Linked DNA regions of Homo sapiens: region 2 is linked to region 1. Evidence: fine-mapped expression QTL. A gene starts in region 1. The other region holds a variant in brackets. All regions are shown on one strand. Distances are between the middles of the regions.

Region 1 (8,000 bases):
AACAGGATTTCACCATGTTAGCCAGACTGGTCTCGAACTCCTGACATCAGGTGATCCGCCCTCGGCCTCCCAAAGTGTTGGGATTACAGGTGTGAGCCACTGCGCCCGGCCTGGGGAGCTGTTTTTTTAAGTGATGATGAGGGTAGCAGGCAGAAGATGGCTCCGTGGAAAATTAGATGAGTTCTTGTCAAAAGCCGTGGGTTCCCTGAGTTAGATCCACCCAGCTTCTCACACCTCACCTGGAGTGAGTGCGTTTCTGTGGAGGTGAGGATCTCAGTTTTCAAATGTACTGAGAGGCATAGGGTCCTAGAATGCTATAGATCATCCGCTCCCGCCTCCTTCCTTCTATACGTGGGGAAGCTGAGACCCGAGAGAGCAAGCAACTTCTCTGAGGTTACACAGCAGGACAGGGCCCCAGCCAGCACCCCCACTGGTGCCCCACGCTGTCTCTCCATGGAGGCCTGTCTCCAGCTTAGACCAGCAAGATAGCCAGGAGCAGCCCCGCTGAGGGTACTGCCCGTGCAGTGGGCTCAGTACAGGAGCCAGGGCCCGAGAGCCCCCTGGAAGCCAGCTGGCTGTGCTCGGCCAGCCCCAGCCCACATTTGTGGATCTGAAGCTGCTTTTATCAGCATATCACCACCAGGCCGGGGCCACACCAGGCTCTTTGAGACTACCTGGAGTCCTTGTCACCACAGGTACAGGTCTTGTGAGTCTAGCCAGCCTGAGTGTAGGACTGAACCCTCTGGTCAGACTGAATGGGACATTCTCTCTGGCCAGGTGGAGCAGGCTTGCACAAGGACAGTGGTCCCCTCTTGGTTCCGGGACCTCCGTGCCATCCTCACGCCCCAGCTTTCCAGGTTCCCTCATTCTTAGAGGGACGACAATGCCGACAGTGTCCCTTACGGGACAGTTTGCGCGTGGTTCAGGAGCTGGGCTGCCTTTCTCCCCTCCCTCTCTGTCTACACTTGGTCTGGCGTTTTCAGCCTGACTGGCACTGTGCCCACACGGCCTAATGTAGCCCAGCAGAGACACTCCTTCAAAGAGGGAGCGGGCAGGGAGAGCTTTTTCGCTTGTGCCACACCCAGAGACCCAGGGAGAGATTGCAGGGGGCACTTTTCCTTGTGAGCGAGAGACCTGGGGCTGTGCTCACCAGAACAGGGAGGAGGAAGGTTGGACTGAGGCTGAATTTACTGGTGCAGGAAAAGTGGGGTTTGTTGCTGAGAAGCTCTGGCCAGCCTCCTCCAGGGGCTGCAAAGTGGGAGAGCTGCAGACTCATGCCGGGTGGACCCCGGCCTCCAGCGGGGAAAAGTGTCAGTTCCCAGCAGCAGCAGGCTGCGGCTGTGGACAGTGTCATAGCTTTGCGCCCAGGGCTTCCCTAGGGGGCTGACTGGAAGCTGAATTTGCCAGCCAGGCATGGCCAGCCTCACCCAGCCCCAGGGTCTGACCCAGGGGTACTCACGGTATCCTGTCACACAGTGAGCAGAAGTAGGACCGTTGGACGTGGCTGTTCTGCCCCCAGAGAGCTGGAGAGGAACCCCGGGACCCCCTTTGTTTTGCAGTTGATATCTTGTCATTTGGAGCGTAAACCCGCGACTGAACCTTCATGGCGCAGGTGGGGGAGCTGAGGGGTCCTGTTCTCTAAAGAGGAGGAGGCGCATTCCAGCCGGTCCCCAGGTGGTCTTCCCAGCGGGCTATTTAAAGCCAGGCCAAGGAGTGCCTGACACTTGGTGCCCAATATAACCAGCAGCCGTCAGGTGACTGTGTGGCATGTGCCCCAGCCGCTGCTCCTAAGGGAACCTTAGTGTTCCCAGCTGTGGCGAGGGGAACATGGGAGCTCTGAGGCTGGCCACCTCTCCTCCCCTTTCCCTTCCTAGGTTTGGCAGGAGGAAGGCAGGGAAGCCCAGGAGGGCTACTGATGATCCCATATTTTTCCCGTCTTTCTATCTCAGGTTCACCCAACTCCTTCCAAAACCACACTTCCCACCTGCGAACCAGGGCAACCAGTCCCTCCCAACCCCACGCTTGGTAGTGCCCACCTGCGAACCAGGGCAACCAGAGTCCCTCCCAACCCCACGCTCAGTAGTGCCTTGGTTGGAGGCTTCTCAGGGTCCTCAGGGGTTCCTGAGTGGCTGCCAGAGCAAGTGGTGGCTCCCTCTGGCCTTAAGAGGGAGTGTAGCCCAGCTGCCACCAGGCCCTCCTGCTGCCCAGGCTGCCCAGCCAGCCCTGCTTGGAGCCTTCAGAGGGTGTGCCCTGGCTGCAGTAGCGGTCAGCACAGGGGAAACACTCAGGGCAGAGAAGGCTGGCAGAGCCGGAGGGATGGGAAGCATTCCTTTATGTGGCATCTCCTGGCACACGGAGCCTTGCAACAGGCAGGCATCCCGCAGGCCAGACAGCTGCCACTTGGTCCCGAAGCTTCCCTGTTTCCTCCTCGCAGAGCTGATACTCCAACCCCAGGCGCCTCACGAGGAAGGGCTGGCAGCAGGCGGCGTGTTTGAGACTGATAAGCGAGGTGTGTTGGCAGCGCGGGGCCCCAGAGGGCTGCTTGCTCTGCCCTGTTGTTTCGTCATGGTGGGTTTTAGTCACCCTTGCCCTGTTGGGCATTATCTCGTTTGAGGTCCACCTAGAAGGAGGCATAACTGACACTTGTGGGAGATTTGCAGGGTCCTGTGCCTGAGCAGCCGGGGGGGATGCCCCTATTTGTGGCACTGAGCCTTTGGGTGACTCCCCTTTTTGCCCTGGCTCCAACTGGAAGTAGAAAGTGGTGCTTGAACCCCTGGCAGGCCCTGCTCCTGTAGCCACCCAGGGCGGGAGGAAGCGCTTTCTGCTGCTGGTGTTAGAAACAGTAGGCGCTCTTTCTGCAGCTACAGAAGCTGGCTGTTCATTCACCCTCCGTCCTGGTTCAGGGACTGTGTTGGAGAGACCCTGTCCACTCGTGTCCTGTGGATGCAGGACAGGGATCCCCACCTGCCTGCCTGGGGCGTCTTGTGAGTGACAGCCACTGGGGTCTCCAGGCTCACCGCTGTGCCCCGACCCCGACCTGGCCTGACTCTTCCCTACTGTGCGCCTCCCAACACCGCAGGAGCTTGTCTCCCCAGACACCAGCCCCAGCCGAAGCCCCCAGCCTCTGCTGAGCTGAGAACACTTGGGCTAGTCCTTGGTTTCCACATTTCCCTGGGTCATTGTTTTTGTTTCTCACTAGATGCCAGCTTGTTTGCTTTGAGGAAAACATATGGGGGGTGGTGGCTTTAACGCTGGCTTGAGGACAGGGCGGCAGGAGGAGTAGGCAGCCTCGGCTCACGGGCCCTGCCCAGGAGGGCTGCTCTCAGTGTTCCCCAAAGAACCAAACAGCCGGGTCCTGCTTCCTTAGGGGTGGTGTCATGTCAGCCTGTGCATCACGGTGGCACAGCAGAGGTCCCGGTTGCCAGCGTGGTCCCTCCCAGCCTCACTTCTGTGACCTTCTGCCCACCTGAGCCTGAGTTGAAAGTCAGTCCTCCAGGTTCCTGGTTTGGTGTTCAAGGCTCATCACCAGAGGGAGATCTAGGAGTTTATGGGGTTCTAGATGGGCCCAGGGAGGAGGACCCAGGCTGAGCCGTGAGCTGAGAACACCAGCAGTGAGTGGGCCAAGCCCCTGAAAGGACACAGATGGGCAGAGTCCTGCTGCATCCTGGGGGCGCCGCATGCTGGCTGGGCAGACCCTGCGCTGACCTCGACAGGGCTCTGCCCTAATCCTGGGAAAAAGGGAGGCTCAGCAGGCCGGCAGCCATTCTCTCCCAAGCTGGACAGCCAAATCCCTCTTTTAAGCCCCCTGAATAAAAGAGCTGAAATGAACTTGCAGAATAAGCAGGCCCTCGGGGCCCCTCTGCTGCACAGCAGGCGGAGCAGGAGGCGCTCTGAGCAGAGCCCCCAGCCCTCCCCTAGTGCAGGGTCCCAGCAGCAGGGAGAGTGCAGGTGTGTGCAGGAGGCTGGCTGACTTCCCTGCAGGGAAGCGACCCAGCATGTCCCCGAAGACCTCTCCGTGTTTATGGTAGACTGTGGCCCTTCACCCTGGGGGCAGGGGACCCTTGCTGCTCCCTCCCTGTCCCCCCTTCTTCTGTGGCCATTGCCACTCACCTGGGAGCTCAGGTGTTGGGGGCTGAGCAGCAGTGCCCCAGCGCGGAGCCTCCACGTGCTGTCCTCGTACTTCCTTCGTGGGCGCCGCTGCTCCCCTGGGCGCCTCAGCCCAGCTCCTCTGCTGACAGCCAGCTGCTGTCTCTGCCTGGCTTTTTTGTTGTTGGTCGTCCTGGAGATCCAAGTGTCAAATTACCGTCGCGAGGGGGAGCCCGAGGAAGCCCTGCTTGGGAACTTGTCCTCCAACTTCATGTCCCGGTGCCTCACCTCTGCCCTGAGAGCGCTGCTCAGGGACAAGACAAGCTCCCTCTCTCCTCCTCCTTCCTCCTCCTCTCCCTCTCCCCGACTCCCACGCCGTGGGCTGGGCCTGGGTTGGGAGCTGAAGAAAGAAGTCGGCTCTCTGCCTTCCTGGCCAGGAGGACCCTGGGGAGGCTCCACCTGAGCCTGTGGAGGGGAGTCCTGCAGCGCTCTCAGGTCTGGGGCACCCACCCTGCCCTCAGGAAGGCCACCCCTTCTGTCCCTCTGGCCACTCCCTGGCTGGTCCCTCCCTCTGGCCTCTCTCAGGAACAACAGTAAACAGTGGGGAGCTGGTGGCCCTCTCAAGCTGAGCAGGAGGCTTTGCAACCAGTCCCTGGGGAGGCCCTTGTGCCGCTCAGCATCTGAAGGCGTCTTGGGGGAGAACTTGGAATCCTGAGTGACCTGGGAGTGGCCTGCGCGCCCGGCAAGGCGCCTCATGTTCCTTGTGAGGTGAGGGCCTTCTGCTGGGGCTGTGACCGCACTCCTGGCCCAGCTGTCAGGGCAGGGCTCCAGAGTCCAGGGGCCGGGCCCTGTGACATTTGCCTGGTTGTGCCTCCCAGCAGGCTAGGCTGTGTGGAGAGAAACCGACCCCAGCCCCGCTGTCAATGGAGCTCTTTGAGTCCGAGCACAAAACCCCAGTGAGTCAGGGCCTGAGGAGGGCAGGGGGAGGAAGCCAGCCATGTGGTCACACCACTCGGATGCCAGAGCCTCCCAGAGGCTGGACAGGCGGCCGCTGTGCGGGCGCACGGACTCCTGGGGATGAACCATTTGTTGCATTTACTCATTGGAGCAGAGTGGGGGCAGGAGCGCCCTCTGGTGGCCGCCTCGGCTGTCCCAGCCCAGGTCAGGCTTCAGAGCTGCATTCACTCAGCTAAAAGAAAGTCAGCCAGGCCCTGCTTCCTTACCGGGGTGTTGCAATCAGCCTTGCATCCTTGAGCCTGCGCCTTGGGGTCGCAGCCCCTCAAAGGGCTTCTTGCAGCCGCAGCAGTGCTCACACTGGGAGGAGTTCTAGTTAGAGCAGTTAATGCCAGCTATTCTTGTCCCTGGGATGTGGCACCCCAGACAGCCCTGCCTGTGTTCCAGCATCTCCTCTTGGGCTTCCCTACCCTGTGCCACGTTCCTGGTGGCAGGAATGGCTGTTTATAAGGAGCCTGAGAGAGCTATGGCCCCTCTTGCGGCCTCTGCAGCTGCCCCAAGGGTCGACAGCCACCCCCATGCAGAGGGAACAGAGATGCGACAGAGCCTCGTGGGCCAGCCAGAGGCTGCTCCCTGCTCCCAGCATGGGCAGAGGCCGCTCACCCCAGGAGGGCTGCAGCAGGGTTGAGACAGAGGAAGACGAGAGGAGGACTCCAGGCGAGGCTGCGTCTCCCTGGCTAAAGGCCCCACCTGTGACACCCTCACGGGTTGATGATGGGACATATTACTACACAGCCGTGCCTGCCTTAGCAATGCAAATACGTTTTGAGAAATTTAACTTGTCATTGTGCGGTCACAGAGTATACTTAGGGAAATCAAACAGCAATTCCAGGGAAGAGAAGGAAAAAAATATCAAGCGGCACAGCCTCCTACACACCCAGGCCATGCGCTACAGCTTGTTGCTCCTAGACCACAAACCTGTACATCACGTTACTGTCCTGAGTACCGTATGCAGTTGTAACACAGTGGTATTCACATATCTAAGCACACATAAGCATAGAAAAAGTACAGTAGAAATACAGTGTTAGAATCGTAGGGGACCACCATTGGCTGTGCAGTCATTCCATGGGGCATGACTGTACTGTAATGCACTTCAGACATCACCTCAGCCATCTTCGCTCAGTCCGTGAGGGCTGTGCCTTTCTGCACCATCTTACTGACGGGAATGCATGGGCTTTAGGAGGTGAAGTGTGTCACCCAAAAGACACCCTTCATGGCAGAGCCAGCATCTACATCCCATTGCCAGAGGACAGAGGGGAGGAGCAGAGGAGTAACTGGACAGAGTGGGGTTCACATCCTGCTTCCCGGGAGACCCCCATGTGTTACGTGACCTTGGGAAAGTTGGTTCACCTTATCGTCCTCATCTGTGTAGTGGGGAGAGCCAAACGATGCCTGGTGCAGCTTGGATGAGATGAGGGGTGTGGGGCTCCCGGCATGGTGCCGGACGCGGCAGTGCTCGCTCAGCTAGCGATTCAGGCTCGGGTGAACAGACGCTGGCCGACTGGGCTCTCCGCCCCTCACCTCTGCGGTGCTGCCTGCTCCAGGTGCCGCCATGCCGCCATTGCCAAGTACTTCGGGGATGCGCTGCCTGCCTGCGCCAAAGGCTGCGACCACTGCCAGAACCCCACGGCCGTGCGGAGGCGGCTGGAGGCCTTGGAGCGCAGCAGCAGCTGGAGCAAGACCTGCATCGGGCCCTCCCAGGGGAACGGCTTTGACCCCGAGCTGTATGAGGGAGGCCGCAAGGGCTACGGGGACTTCAGCAGGTAAGGGGCCGAGAAGCCAGGGCTCCAACCCGCTGGAATTGCCTGGCATTCCCTTGGCGCCAGGGCCAGACCAGAGGTGGCACGATGCCGCAATCCCCCCTTGAGCTGGTAGGACATCAGGGACATTGCCGTTCTAGCAGCAGCACACATGGGGAGGGCAGAGCCCAGGCCAGGGCCACTCACGCCTGGCCTGTCCCTAGGTATGACGAAGGTTCTGGAGGCAGCGGGGATGAAGGCAGAGATGAGGCCCACAAGCGGGAGTGGAACCTCTTCTATCAGAAGCAGATGCAGCTGCGCAAGGTGAGGGGAGGCACTCAGTGGCCTGTGTGGGGCCCCTGGTGGCCCCCTGCTCGCACCTCTCAGCCCCTTCTCTGGTGCTGGATGGGACTGTCCTGCGGCAGGGCAGGACGCCTCATGGGTCCTTCATGTTGTCCTCCAGGGCAAAGACCCCAAGATAGAAGAATTTGTACCCCCAGGTCAGTACAGAAATGTTCCTGGAGGCTTGTGGGCTCTTCCCGGGGCATGGAGGGAGGATTCTCATCCGGGCTGTGGGGGACCTCAGAGCGCAGAAGGTGGAGCGAAAGGACCAAGGACCACCCCCCCCCCCCACAGATGAGAACTGTCCCCTGAAAGAGGCTTCTAGCAGGAGGATCCCCAGGCTGACTGTGAAGGTAAGAGACGGGCAGCTCCTCAGCCACCCGCCGGGGCCCTCCCCCAGCCGCGAGGCCATGCGACCAGTCTCACTGTCCTGTGCCAGGCACGGGAGCACTGCCTGCGGCTTCTGGAGGAGGCGCTGAGCAGCAACCGCCAGTCAACACGTACCGCTGATGAGTGAGTTCCACGATCACTGGGCTGAGGAGCACTCCAAGCTCTCGTTCCCTTGGAGACTGCAGGACCCTGTCAACCCTGGCCTGTTTGGGCCACCTCTCCCCAGATTGTACCTCTCCTACTCCAGGGGACTGCCCCTACAACCCCACCAGGGCCAGGCATGGCTACAACTTAGGTGCTACCAGCAGCTGCTGAGGGACAGTAAGCCACAGGGTGCTCAGAGAGCCCTAATCAGAATCCCTGTGCCCAAGGCCTACCCCACCAGGCCTGGAGTCCCGCAAGAGCTCAGCAGGGAGAAGCCCAGGCCCA
Region 2 (8,507 bases), 95 kb before region 1:
AAGACAGAGTTTCGCTCTTCTTGCCCAGGCTGGAGTGCAGTGGCGCGATCTCAGCTCACGGCAACCTCCGCCTTCTAGGTGCAAGCAATTCTGCCTCAGCCTCCCGAGTAGCTGGGATTACAGGCATGCACCACCACGCCCAGCTACTTTTTTGTATTTTTAGTAGAGATGGGATTTCACCATGTTGGCCAGGCTGGTCTTGAACTCCTGACCTCAGGTGATCCACCCACCTCGGCCTCCCAAAGTGCTGGGATTACAGGTGTGAGCCACCTCGCCTGGCCTGCTGTCCCATTTTACAGATGAGGAAACTGAGGCTCTGAGAGGGCCGAGGCAGCTCCCAGTCATGCAGACAGAAGTGGCTGAGCTGAGACCTAAACCCCAGTGCCCTGTCATGTCACCCCTTCCAGTGTCCTTTCCCCACTGCTCTGCCTCAAGTTGTGGCAAGCTCGCCCAGTGTCCTGAAGCTAAAGCCCTTACTGCCGTGCATTTACGAGCTCTCTTCTGATCAGGCAATATGACACAGGACTCAGAATACCAAAGGCATGGAGCAAAAAGGAAGCCTCGTGTGCCTGTCCCCCAAGATCCAGACCCCAGCCCCAACAGCCAACCCCGTCTCAATCCTCACACCTCTTTCTAGAGACAGCCCATATATCTCTGTATTTCAAAGTGCTTTGACCTGGGTTTGACCAACAACTGGGTGTGCCCCGCCCTTAGCCGTTTCTTTGATTGCCGCCCCACCCCCAGCCAGGTGTACAAGGTGCACCCAGGGCCAGGCCCCTGCAGGAGCCCAGCTTTCCCATCAGGGGCCACTGGTGTCCTGGGTGCCCAACTCCCTTCCCCACTCACCAGCCCTCGCTGCACACACACTGTCCGCACACGAAGTCTCCGTTGAAGCTGCAGCGAGCTGACCGCACCTCTTTTTGCTGGAATGAGAGAGACCATGGTGGGGTGCGTCGGGGGAGCAGGACCGGGGCCACTGGACACTTCCGCTCTCCTGTGTGCCTCGGGAAACCCCACAAGGGATATGGGGCACAGGAGTCCTGCTTCATTCCTCAGGGTCCCTGGGTGCTTGGCTCAGCTCTCCCCTCCCGCCCTGCGGGGCTGCGTTGTACCAGCTCGCAGGTGCACACATCACAGATGATGCCCGCGTCCATCTTGAGGCCGTCGGAGAAGGAAGGTTTCAGATGGATGTTGCCCTTCTGGTCCTCCGGCAGCTGGCACACGTGCGTCCCATCCACGTGCTCAAGGGCCCGCAGCTGCACCTGGTATATACCCTGCAGGGGCCCCGTGGTCAGCCAAGGCAGGCCCAGCCCCAAGGACCAGGGGGCCATCGATGCCTGAAGGCCCTCGGCCCCCAAGTTCCTAGGAGATGTCTGGATCCCTGAAATGAGCTCCTGCTCACCTCCCTCAGGGCTGGAAACTCCCTCCTTCCCAGCGCAGTCACAATCATAGCGACAATGACAGTGGCCAGGGCCTCTGGGCTTCGTGACACTAACCCATTTACTGCCCCAGCAAGCCTCCGGGCTCGACGCTTGCATGCCGAGGAAACCAACAAGCAGAGGAGCAACCTAGGCTCATCCGAGCGGCTAGGCCCAGGGATCTGCACCCAGGCCTGCCTGACTCCAGGGGCCACGCTCTTGACCGCTGTTTTAAACGATTCCACTCGGTGTGGGGCGCTGTGCCTATCCCCCACCCCGCTGCCCCCACAGAGGCGTACCACTTCCCCCCGCCGGATGTGAAAGGACCCAGTCCTCGTCTTCTGGAACATCTTGGAGGTGACCTCTGTCCGAAGGCCTCGGGGGCTGTCTAGGGCCCGGATGTCCAGGTTGGAGCGGATCCGCTAAAGGAGGAAGGAGGTTGATCAGTGCTCTGTGGGGGGCCTCTGTGCTCCACCCCAACCTCCAAGTGTGGCTGGCATCATGCGGGGTATCACAGAGCCTGCAGGAGCCAGGGCCAGGCCCAGGTGGCCCCTCGGGGCCTCAGGGATAGCTAGAGACCCTTCCTCACTGGTCTGTCCCAGACCCATTTCTCCACCGTGATCCAAGACACCTCTTGCCCACCCTGCCCACTTCCTGCCCTGCCCCAGAAGGGCTCAGACTCTGGAGCCTGAGCTGCCCTCACATTGAAGGCCTCCTCCAGCAGCTCCACGATGTTGGACGAGTCCTCCTGCAGCACCCCCAGTGAGGAGACAGGGAAATAGGTGTGAAGCTTCTGCGGGAGAGAAGGCCAGGTCTCAGGCTAAGCATCTCCATGAATCTGAACAGCTCTAGGATTCTTCCCACTTTGAGGATGGGGAAACTGAGGCCTGGAACCTACTGTGGTGTCGCAGAGCCTGCCCTCTTAGCCCCCACCTGCTTGGGAGTTGGGGTGGAAGATGGGCACATGACCTCCCCTTCCCACTAGGGCCCACATTTTGGGGGGTCTAAAGGCTTTGGGAAGGGAGGAAGGAAAGGGAGGAAAAGAGGGAGGGAGGAAGGGAGGAAGGGAGGGAGGGAGGGAGGGAGGGAGGGAGAGGTGTCTGAGAAGCTCCATGGACCCCCTACCTTGACCACCTCCCACCCGTGGGACCTGGGCCCCGCACCTCGTAGTAGCTATAGGAGTAGTTGGTGACAGCAAAGATGGGGATGATGTTGTGCTTGGCGAGCAGGCGCACCAGGGTGGGCACCGACGGGTAGTCCTGTGTCCTGTACTGGGTGTAGGTGCCCGTGGTGTCCAGGTGGCACCGTTCATCGTTGCGGCTCATGATGCCAGCCAGCACGTTGGCGCCATCAGCCTCATAGTGGAAGGCTGACTCGGTGGAGAAGACCAGCAGGTGGGTGCTGTCCGGGCGCCAGCCAATGTCCCTCTGGGGAAGGCAAGGCGGGGCGTGCCCACTGAGCAGGCTGCCTGCTGACACGCATCACGGCGTCGTGTAGGACGGGGAACGCGGGTCCCAACATGGGGCTGGGCTTAAGCCACTGGATTCACAGCAAGTGCCCTCATGAAAGATGCATCTGACGGCACATGACTGAGTGACAACGCTGAGAAACAGGAGCTGGAGATGCGGCCCCCGCAAGGCGCTGGGGCCACAGGCGTGCATCACACCCAGCTAATTTTTGTGTTTTCTGTAGAGACAGGGTCTTGCCATGTTTCCCAGGCTGGTCTCAAATCCTGAATTCAAGCAATCCCCCCGCCTCGGCCTCCCAAAGTGCTGGGATTACAGGTGTGAGCCACCACGCCTTGGCTAGCTCTTTGTTTTCTAACCTAGTAATATGGGTATGTCATTTTCAGAATGAACAAATGGATGTACATATCAAAGGAAATGGCTTATTTGGATGCCCAGAACAGGTGGAGTCTGGGCAGCTGGTGGGTTCAGGGTACTAAAGATTCCAGAACGCTAAAGCCCAGGTCTGCCTTGGTAGCTGATACGAAACCAGGCTGTGACTGCTCAGGCCAGGGGACCGTGGCTCCAGGCACATCTGAACTCAGATTGTAACTGAGACCTACTCACAGAGTCTGAGCTTGTCTCAGGGTGAAGGGGTTGCAGGCTCCCAGGCTTTCCCTCAGGGCCTGTGAGCCTGGCACCAGAGCAGGCCAGGGGGCAGCTCAGGCCCTTGCCCAGAAGTGCTCACCCCTGGCCTAGGCTGGCAGCACCCTTCCCAGTGCCCACCGTGCACACAGCTGTCTGCAGGATGGCATCGAAGCCGCCCTCAGGAGCATCCAGGTTGCCTGAGATCCGCTCTCCCTGCAGTTTATTCCGGAACTCATCCACATCTTCTGTCAGGCTGATGACGTTCTTGAAGGAGAAGGGGGGGTCACTGTTGGGCCAGGGCTCCTTCAGCCTGGGCAGAGGTGGGAGGGAGAGAGAGTGTCACAGGGGGAAGACGCCGCAGACCCCAGTGCCCCTGGCTCGTTTCAACTAGAAGGAGAATTTTTTTTTTTTTTTTTGAGACCAAGTCTCGCTTTATCACCCAGGCTGGTGTGCGGTATGCACGATCTTGGCTCACTGCAACCTCTGCCTCCTGGGTTCAAGTGATTCTCCTGCCTCAGCCTCCCAAGTAGCTGGAATTACAGGCGCCCACCACCACACCTGGCTAATTTTTTTTTTTTTTTTTTTTTTGTTGAGACAGAGTCTCATTCTGTCGCCCAGGCTGGAGTGCAGTGGCGCAATCCTGGCTCATTGCAAGCTCCGCCTCCCGGGTTCACGCCATTCTCCTGCCTCAGCCTCCCGAGTAGCTGGGACTAC[C/T]GGTGCCCACCATCACGCCTGGCTAATCTTTTGTATTTTTAGTAGAGACGGGGTTTCACCGTGTTAGCCAGGATGGTCTCGATCTCCTGACCTCGTGATCCACCCGCCTTGGCCTCCCAAAGTGCTAGGATTACAGGCGTGAACCACCGCGCCCAGCCAATTTTTGTATTTTTTAGTAGAGATGGGGTTTTGCCATGTTGCCCAGGCTGGTCTTGAACTTCTGACCTCAGGTGATCTGCCCGCCCTGGTCTCCCAAAGTGCTGGGATTACAGGCATGAGCCACCGTGCCCAGCCGTAGAAGGATAATTTTAAGTTGTGGGTGAAAGAGGAGTGGGGGTCACATGGCCTGGACCCTTGCCCACCTGCGGGACCCACACAGTCACTTACTTCTCAGGCCTCATGTCCGTCTGCGGGACGCTGACTTTGTCCACAAACTTGCCAAATCCAATAGTGTAGTCGCTGGTGAGCTGGCTCAGGACCCGAGCTGGATGTCAAAAGGACAGAGAGGGGATAGCTGAGCCCTGATGCCTGGCATAAACACGGGCCCCCCACCAAGGGCTGGCTCAGAAGGGAGGAAGAGGGAGGTTAACGCTTTGCATGCTGGACAAAGGTTCATGCTCACAACATTGTCTGTTCCTATTTATGGATGAGGGAAATGGGACTGGGGGTCTGGAGTTATGCGTACAGCAAGGGCAGGGTGGCTGGGAATGCAGCCCAGCTCTGAGGAGCAGAAGCTTCCCCACAGCCTCGTGGCAGGGGGTGCCCTCCTTGTCAGGGCCAGATGGCTCCACTGCCCGCCTGCCCTGGGCCTTCTCAGAAGTCCCCAGTGGTGAGTAGGGTCTGACCGAGATTCTTCCCTTGAGAATGGAAGGGAAGGTTTTTGGGGGCTCAAATGTCCAGTGTTTCCTTCTGGGTGGGTGCAGCTGTCCTGAGTCCTGGCCTCCCAAGCAGACGCCCACCTGTCCCCCTCCTGCCCTGCTGTCCTCCACTCTGGCCCTGCCGTACCCAGGTTCTGCCCCATCTTCTTGAGGTTGTCCAGATCATCGGACATGGAGTTGGAGAAGTCCATGAGGATGTACAGGTCCACGGGGCTCTCCAGTGGCTCAAACACCTCCAGCTCAAAATGCCGCTCCTCACCGGGCCGCAGACGGACCCGCAGGCCTTGGGGGGACATCTGGCTGCGCCGCAGGGTGGTGTCAATCTGGGTCTCCTGCAGCCAGTGGAAGGGGACAGCTGGCTAGAGGGTCACTCCGGAGGCCCGATGGGGGCCCAGCCCGGCCAAGGGGCACTATACACCCCCATAAATAGCCAGGCTGAGCATGGGGAGCCCCCACCCCAGTCCCCACACCAGGCACCTCTGTGATTTGGAAGCTGCTCTCCATGACCACGATGCTCTCCCGCTGGCAGCCCGCGGCCAGCAGCTCCGCCTGGGTGTTGCAGCGCCGGTCCCTGAACATCTGGCCAGAAGGACAGGGGGTCACTGGGGGCAGCACCCATTCCCTGGCTGCCCCAACCCTAGATTCATTTCCACCAGCTATTCCCGACCCTTGCCTGTTCCACACCAACCCGGGCCAGGTCCTCACCTCGTCTGTGCAGTAGGCGCAGTCCTTATCCACACGGACACACTCCGTGCAGCTCTTCACTGGGGCCTTCTTGCAGCGGTTTGCTGGGGGGACAGATGTGGGCACATGAATGGGGAGGCGCTCAGCAAAGGCAAGCACTTTCCCACCTGCACCTTCACCTGGAGAGATGGGGATTCCCTCCTTATGTTATTTATTTATTTATTTTGAGACAGAGTCTCGCTCTGTTGCCCAGGCTGGAGTGCAGTGGCGTGATCCTGGCTCACTGCAAGCTCCACCACCCGTGTTCACGCCATTCTCCCACCTCAGCCTCTGGAGTAGCTGAGACTACAGGCGCCCGCCACCACGCCCGGCTAATTTTTTGTATTTTTAGTAGAGACAGGGTTTCACCGTGTTAGCCAGGATGGTCTCGATCTCCTGACCTTGTGATCCACCCGCCTTGGCCTTCCAAAGTGCTGGGATTACAGGTGGGAGCCACCGGGCCCGGCCTTATGTATTTATTTTGGTTTGTTGTTGTTGTTGTATTTTTATTTTGTTTTACTTTATTTTTCAGACGAGTCTTGCTCTGTTGCCCAGGCTGGAGTGCAGTGGTGCGATCTCAGCTCACTTCAACCTCCGCCTCCCAGGTTCAAGTGATTCTCCTGCCTCAGCCTCCCGAGTAGCTGGGATAATGGGTGGGCACCACCATGCCTGGCTAATTTTTGTATTTTTAGTAGAGATGGGGTTCCACCATGTTGGCTAGGCTGGTCTCGAACTCCTGACCTCAAATCATCTGCCCGCCTCAGCCTCCCAAAGTGCTGGGATTACAGGCGTGAGCTACTGTGCCCAACCTGCATTTCAATTTTATTTAGTTTTGAGATACGGTCTTGCTGTGTCGCCCAGGCTGGAGTGCAGTGGCATGATCACAGCTCACTGCAGTCTCGACATCCTGGGCTCAGGCAATCCTCCCACCTCAGCCTCCCAAGTAGCCCAGCTAATTTTTTATTTTATGTAGAGACAGGGGCTCCCTATGTTGCTCAGGATGGTCTCATATTCCTGGGTTCAGGAGATCCTCCCACCTTGGCCTCCCAAAGTGCTGGGAATTATAGGCGTGAGCCACTGCACCCAGCCGTTCCCTATTTTACAGAGGCCAGGGGTATGTGATCTGCCCCAGGTAGCACAGCTAGAAACAAGCTGTGATTTCAAACCTGGGACTTCCCACTCAAGCCAGAAGGACAGAAGGTGGGGACTGAGACAGTGGCACTGGCACACTCGGTGCTGGCACACCCTGGCCACCCCCTGGCCTGCTGCCTCCTCAGGTCCAGCCAGACGGTCCTCAGCCTTCCCCATTACCTTTGATGAGCTGCACCTAGCACCCTTTTCAGGTACCTCCTCCATCACAGCTTGTGCCTCACGGCGAGACCACTGCCACATGGCCTGTCTGTCCTCTGAGCCCCTTCTAGGGTGAAGGGAATGGTGTCTTGTTTATCACGGTAGCCCTAGCACCCGGCACACCTGGCACACAGTGGGTCCTCAGTAACGAATGAAGTAAAACTCTAGATTTCCCTTTGGCTCTGCTCAGTTAAAAATCACAGTGAGGACCTACTGTGTGCACCTGGTGTACACAGTAAGAGGTCTCCTGGGCTTCAGGCAATGGTGTGCTGGTCAGTGTTTAACAATGGCTGTGGTGGCCAGTGCGATGGCTCACACCTGTAATCCCAGCACTTTGGGAAGCCGAGGTAGGAAGATTGCTTAAGCTCAGGAGTTTGAGACCAGCCTGGGTAACATAGTGAGACTGTCTCTACAAAAAAATTGTTTTTAATTAGCCAGGCATGGTGGTGCATGCCTGTGGTCCTAGCTACATGGGAGGCTAAGGTGGGAGGATTGCTTGAGCCTGGGAAGTTGAGGCTGCAGTGAGCCACGATGGCATCACTGCATTTCACCGGGACGACAGAGTGAGAGCATGTTTCTACATATACATTGAATTAAATAAAAAAATAACAACGGCTCTGGTCTCTGGTGCTTGACGTGTAGCGTTTGCCAATTTCTGTGGTGTAAACATTTCTGTCGTGGTCTATTTCAAGCCACCAGCAGGACCCCCTCTAACAGACAAAATTCAAGTGGTAGGAGCTGGCTCCAGTGATTTGTCCACTAGTGACACTCAGAGAGCAAGTGACACGTCAGCAGTGCCTCTCTTCTCCAAATTCCTATAACCCTCTTGACTACACCTCTGGGGCCTCAGTGCATCCTCTGGGTGCCTCAGTCCTGGGTGGGTGTCTCCTCTTTCCTCTAGACACAGCCTCCTTCGCTCCTATTCTCAGGCCCCGTGGTCAGGGCTCAAGCTTCTCTAGGCTGAAGAGCTTGGAGCCTCAAGTTTTCCAGCCCTGAAGGTGGGCAGTGGTCAGTTGCTGAATGGCCAAGCGTGTTTAGGTGAGACACCGTGAGATCCCCGTGCAAGGGCAATGCCTGCCCAAGGGATGATCCTGCCAGGAGGGGGCTGCAGGGCAACGTGGACTCACCCAAGGTCCCAGAGAGGCTGACGCTGATCAAGGCTGCCAGGAGCAGCCTGGCCCATGGGCTGGGGCGTGGCCCTGCCATCCTCTTCCTCCTGCAGAACAGCAACAATTGACACATGAGGCCTCCACAGCCATGGTCGGTGCCGTCAGCTTCCTCTCGCTGCACAGCTGTGGGAACTGAGGCTCTGAGCACCAACAATGTGACCA

Evidence for each region. PIP is the estimated chance that this variant, and not a neighbour inherited with it, causes the effect. A credible set is the group of variants that fine-mapping cannot tell apart.
Region 2: its variant is the best candidate, but not a certain one, in a credible set for the expression of SMIM5 in lung (TOPMed, PIP 0.74).

What each region holds. Positions count from the first base shown.
Region 1 is chr17:75,630,313-75,638,312 of GRCh38, reverse strand. SMIM5 (small integral membrane protein 5) reads right to left here and starts at 4,879. Exons shown (of 3, transcript NM_001162995.3): 1 at 4,111-4,879. RECQL5 (RecQ like helicase 5) reads left to right here. Exons shown (of 20, transcript NM_004259.7): 9 at 6,645-6,863; 10 at 7,064-7,163; 11 at 7,303-7,339; 12 at 7,476-7,534; 13 at 7,621-7,694. RefSeq lists enhancers at 4,447-5,126, 5,127-5,807.
Region 2 is chr17:75,724,579-75,733,085 of GRCh38, reverse strand. ITGB4 (integrin subunit beta 4) reads right to left here. Exons shown (of 40, transcript NM_000213.5): 2 at 8,304-8,392; 3 at 5,809-5,891; 4 at 5,581-5,682; 5 at 5,231-5,435; 6 at 4,613-4,709; 7 at 3,650-3,821; 8 at 2,582-2,845; 9 at 2,122-2,211; 10 at 1,718-1,840; 11 at 1,113-1,274; 12 at 847-923. The coding sequence starts at 8,382. Among named protein-coding and RNA genes, the nearest start is that of ITGB4, 7.4 kb to the right of the region's middle. RefSeq lists an enhancer at 4,134-4,634. The variant C/T (reference allele first, on the strand shown) is at 4,226.